Linked DNA regions of Homo sapiens: region 2 is linked to region 1. Evidence: fine-mapped expression QTL. A gene starts in region 1. The other region holds a variant in brackets. All regions are shown on one strand. Distances are from middle to middle. Region 1 holds the start of ZNF883 (zinc finger protein 883). Region 2 holds the start of ZFP37 (ZFP37 zinc finger protein).

Evidence for each region. PIP is the estimated chance that this variant, and not a neighbour inherited with it, causes the effect.
Region 2: its variant is fine-mapped to the expression of ZNF883 in whole blood (TOPMed, PIP 0.93).

What each region holds. Positions count from the first base shown.
Region 1 is chr9:113,010,348-113,013,168 of GRCh38, reverse strand. ZNF883 (zinc finger protein 883) reads left to right here and starts at 977. Exons shown (of 5, transcript NM_001101338.2): 1 at 977-1,019; 2 at 1,942-2,028.
Region 2 is chr9:113,054,096-113,056,916 of GRCh38, reverse strand. It overlaps ZFP37 (ZFP37 zinc finger protein), which reads left to right and starts at 193. Exons shown (of 4, transcript NM_003408.3): 1 at 193-360. The coding sequence starts at 229. RefSeq lists an enhancer at 1-562. The variant C/T (reference allele first, on the strand shown) is at 1,747.

The sequences.
Region 1 (2,821 bases):
ATATTAACTGTGTACAGTTATATCAATCATAGCTCAATAAAGCAATTTTTTAAAGTATGTATAGTTTTATACTTGAGAATATCTAATTATACAGAATTTGTATATATATGCATAGAAATTACATATTTAAATATATAATAGGGAGTATCTTGGAGTGAACTTTTATCTGACTAATTTTGTTCTTTTTCCTTACCTCTATTCTCTGTTATCTACAATCTGTCTATCTATCTATATTCGTTTGTTTAAGAAAAAAGTTAGATATACATATTCCCTCTTCATTATATTCGTTTTTCGGACGTTTTTGTCAAGAACAGATGTGGAGGAGTGAACAGATTACTCTACAAGGATGTTCATCAGTATACTATTTTTGGTAGCACTGAAGGGATCATAACCTAAGTTCCTAACAGGAAGAAAAAAGCTAGAAAAAAATCTACCCCAAAAGTATGACCTCATTCTTGGATGGAATCTCTCTGGTGCTTGCTCGCTGTCTCTCTCTCTGCCCCCTGTCTCTGCCCGCCCCGCCCCCCCGCCACCGTCCCCTCAACACACACTCATAACAAAGAAGCTAGCTATAAATCAGAGATTTACTTTTAGAATGCTAAAAAATATTAATCACTGCGTTAATAAATATTTCTGCAATGAATCCATCTGGGTAGTTTGGTTTTTTATCTGTTGAATAAAGAGTTATTTATAAATCATCTATTAATGTAGTGAATAGGTATTACTTTTGTGTCTGGGGTGTTGTTAACGCAAACTTTGCATCTCTTTGGATTTACAGTTGTTTATAGCAAAAGAAAAAATCTTTTCCTTTTTTCTTCTTTTCATGTAAACAACGATGGAAACGACGCACGTTCGCAACCCGCAAAGCATTAGAAAGACACCGGTGAAAGACGCAGCTCAAGAGGGCGCTTTGCAGAAGATGCTGGGAAATGTAGTTCCTGGCGGCCGCGTGCGCAGGCGTACTTCCTGGCTTGGGAACCACATCGCCCGACCGTGCTCTTTATTTTTCGGTGGAGCAGGTGAGCTTTTTCTTTCCCGACCCTTGCACTCGTGTGGGAGGTGGGGAGAGAGGTCCCCTTCAAACACAACCATTCGGGCGGGTCGGGAGAGGCCTGAGAATGCATTGGCCGGGCCCGGGGGCGGAGGAAAGCCGATTAGGTCAGGCTGGGTATTTGGTTCACGTTGCAGTGGAGGGGTGGTGGTGACCTGGGCCAGCATCCCGCTTCAGGGTGAGGAGGAGGCAAAGCCGTGTCTGCTCATCCCAGCCTTAACAGTCAGGGGCTTGGGTTCTCTTCTGGGTTGGAGAGTCATGAGAACAGAGCTCAGAGCTTTTGGGCCTTGCTTTGACTGTGATGGGGGGCAGTTTATCTGGGGAGGGGCAACCACCCCAGACCTTGGTGGTAGGTAGACCTGGGAATTGCAAGAAAACCGTGATATACGTATTTAGTGCCAACTAGAATTTAGGTTTCCCGACATCCAGTTCTTGCTCTTTCCTCAGAAACTCACCTCCTCTCTAGAGATAGCTTGTTTCGTTTTACTGGTAAATTTCTGAAGTCTCTTCTATAAAGAACTGTGGAATTGATTCCCTACACTCTGCGGGCGACGAAGAGCAATTGTTTGTTCTTTGAGATGGCATTTGTGAATGCACTTCGAAAAATTGTATATGCTTTACAAGTATTGTTAACAAACAAAGAGGGAGCTGGTGCACTCGGTGCCACCCATCATGGGAGGATAAAGTTAGCCCTGTTTCTGGTTTGTCAGATTGGACCAGTGACCAGAGAGAGGAATGTAAGTGGCCTTTCACTTTGTACTCTGCAGGGAAAGAATCTGTTCCTAGATTCATTCTGACATTTTTACAGAGGGTGTGGGTTATATCCAGGTAGTCAGACAGGCTTCTCATAAAGACAGTCCTGATTTCTCAGGGCCCCTTTCCTTTTTCAGCTCTGCTTTCTCAGGTCTCTACTTACTTATATAAGATGGCATCAAGAAGAAGGACCTGACCACTGGCCCCTGACTACATGGTCTTTGGTGAGCAAAACTTTTCAAGGCATTTGTACCTTAAGCTGGGTTTAATTTCTAAAGTTCCATCTTGCAGTGTGGAAAAATCATATGCAATTAAACGTCCCTTGATAATCTCTTTTATTGCTCATTATTTGCTCTCAATTTTTTTTTTTTTTTTTTTTTGAGACAAGGTCTCGTCCAGTTGCCCAGGCTGGAGTGCAGTGCACGATCTTGGCTCACTGCAACCTCTGCCTCCTGGGTTCAAGCGATTCTTCTGCCTCAGCCTCCTGAGTAGCTGGAATTACAGGCGTGCACCACCACGCCCGGCTAATTTTTGTATTTTTAGTAGAGATGGGGTTTCACCATGTTGGGCATCCTGGTCTCAAACTCCTGACCTCGTGATCTGCCCACCTCAGCCTCCCAAAGTGCTGGGATTACAGGTGTGAGTCACCGTGCCCGGCCTAATTTTTCTTTATAACTGACAAATAAAAATTTTATATATTCATCATGTGTAACATGTTGTTTTGAAATATGTATACGTAGTAGAATGGCTAAATCAAGCTAATGAACATGCATCACCTCACGTACTTTTCATTTTTTGTGGTGAGAGCACTTAAACTGCTCTCATAGCAATTTTCAAGAATACATTGTTATGAACAATAGTTCATAACGTGTATGCACATGTAATGTGTATACAACCATGCAATAATATACATGTGTAAATGTACCCCGACTATGTTCTTTAAACATTAAAATAACTCAGCATAGCAAGATGCTCACTTACGAGAGGGCTGTAAGAAGTGAGACTGAGGAAACAGGA
Region 2 (2,821 bases), 44 kb before region 1:
TAGTGCGTAACGGAACTCGGTTCCGGCTGGCTCTGATCGCATCACTCCTGCATCCTGCAAGTAACGCCCTCGCCAGCTTCCACCTCCCGATCTAATTGTCCCAGAAGTCCCCGCACTTCCGCTGTACGGCTGAGTGTTTGCCAAGATGGCCGCGCCCGTGCGCTATTACCGAAGGGCGCCGCCATCGCGGCTGCCGGACCCGCTAAGGCCGCCCTCCGGGTAGCCGCCATGTCGGTCTCCAGCGGCGTCCAGATTCTGACAAAGCCAGAGACCGTGGACCGGAGGAGAAGTGCGGAAACGACCAAAGAGGCCGGGCGACCACTGGAGATGGCTGTGTCCGAGCCCGAGGCCAGCGCCGCGGTGAGAGCTGTGATGAGACAGGGTGTTTTGGCGGTCAGAGATGGTGTACTTGCGGGGCAGTGATTGGAGTAGTCTGTGACGATAGGTGATTTGGGAATTGGTGGAATCGATGCTAGATGGTCTTTTGGGAGGTCGGTGTTCTGAGTTATCTGTGGGGTTAATGATTTGGCTTTAGGATATCAGTATTAGGAGGGATCTGCAGAGACAATGATGGGGAGGCGTCTGTGGCAGTCACCGAGTGTCGGAGTTTGGAAGGAGATCAGAAATGGAGGCTTTGTGATGTGTCAGAGATAGGGAAGGACCGTGGGGGTTGGCGGTTTGGGATGTCTATGGGAGCCAGCGATTATGGGTGCCTGTGGTGGTTAGAGCCTGGGTTATCAAAGAGGGTCAGTGTTAGGATTTGGGAAATTCAGTGATTGGGAGCATCTGGGAGCATCAGAGATTGGGGCTTGGGAGTCAGTGACGGTGATGTCTGTGGAAGTTTGATTAGCAGTATCTTTGAGGGTCAGTGGGTAATGGAGGAATCGGGGGGCCAGTGAGGGGGGAATATGACTGTTGGAGTTTGGGGAGTCAATGTTGAGGTGTCTCTGGGGATGGTAGATGATTTGTATGTCATCTGGGGAGAAAAGGTAATTGGGGATGTATGCAGGTCAATAATTAGGTGGTGTCTAGCAGTAATAACTGTGCTTTGAGTAATGAGGTGATTAGTAGGAATTAATGATTGAAGATCCTCTATGATTCTGTGACTAGAAGTCTAAGGGGGTCAGGAGTTTGAGGGGATTGCTGCATTTAATGATTGAGGGTTCTTTGGTGGTCAGTGATTGGAGATCTGTGGAGGTTAATGATTGTTCTGTGGAGAGTGATAGTTGGGAACTTGCAGAGATCCATAATTGGGAGAAGTTTGTGAAGGTTAGTGATTGGGGAGTATTTGGGTGTCAGTGATTGAAAACTTGCAGGAACAGTAGGAACAGTCTGTAAGATGAGCATTTATTTTATGCCAGGGGGTATTTTTTATTTTATTTGTTTGGTGTTGTTGTTTTGCAGTCCCTGCTTTGTCCTCAAAACCAGGGAATGTTTTAAATGCTGGAGACACACCAGGAAACAAAACCAGAATCCCTCCCTCAATGACTTACATTATAGAAATATGAAAGATATCATAAAATATAAACAAATAAAATTATTCCAGACACTAATAAGTGCTGAAGTAAGTAAAAGAGGATGGTGTGGTACAGAGTGATTGAGGGTAGGGAGTGCATGACTTTAGCCAGGTTAGTCATGGAAAGCTTTCCTTAGCAAATGACAGTTGGGTTGAGGCATAAATCATCACAAGGAGGCAGCCATGCAGAGATCTGAAGAAAGAGTGTTTCAGGAAGAAATAAACATCAA[C/T]TGCAAAGGACCTGGGGTAGGAGTAAACTTGGTGTGCTTAAAAAAGAGAAGGAAGATTAGTGCTGTTGGAGCACAGTCAGAGGGAAAGTAGAAAGCTGTGAATCATAGTGGTAGGAAGGTATCAGATAATGTAGGATTTTATTGGCTAGTGTAAGGATTTGGATTTTATTCTAGATGCAGTGAGAAGCCATTGAGTTTAAGCAGGGGAATGATCTGTTCTGACTGACACCTTGAAAAGATCACCATGGCTACCTCATGGAAGACGGACTGCAGAGGGGCAAGAGTAGGTAGATATAGGGAGGTCAGTTAGGAACTTTTTGCAATAGTCAAAGACAAGAGATTATGGTGATTTAGAATAGAGTTGTAGCAGCAAAATGAAATCAAATTCAGAATACATCTGGAGATAAGCAATAGAACTTACTAATGTATTGATATATGGAGTATGAGGAAAGAGAAGAATCGAGATTTACATCTAGACTTTTAACCTGAAGAACCGGATGGATGGTGATTCTATTTTCTGAATGGAAAGGGTTATGGTGGAAAAGACTAGATTTGGTGGATGGAAATGGGATCTGGGGTGATGTCAGTGGCTCTATTTTGGCCGTGTCAAAATGCTCATTGCACATCTACCTAGAGATATTGGGTAGCCACTATATATATGAATCTGGAACTTAGGAAAGGGGTGAGCTAGGGAACCATTTTTGAAATGCATCACAATAAAGATGGTATTTAAAGCCTTAAGATTGGCTCGGGTCACCTAGGAAGAGAAGACAGATAGGGAAGAGAAGAGAGCCAGGGACAGAGGGCTGGGTCACTCTGACATTTAAAAGTCTGGTAGAAGACAAAAAACAACAGAGAGAATAAGGGGTGCCCATTGAAGTAAGAGGAAAACTGTGCAAGTGGGTGTCAAAGTAGCATAGAGAAGAAAGCCTTTCAAGACAATAGAAGTAATCAATTGTCATATATGCTTTTGAGTCCTAAAAGCAGGACTAGAGATCATTTGATTTTGTCAGTATGTAGCTCAATGGTTATTTTGATTGATTAGAACTCTTTTATTGGAGTTAAGGGGATAATA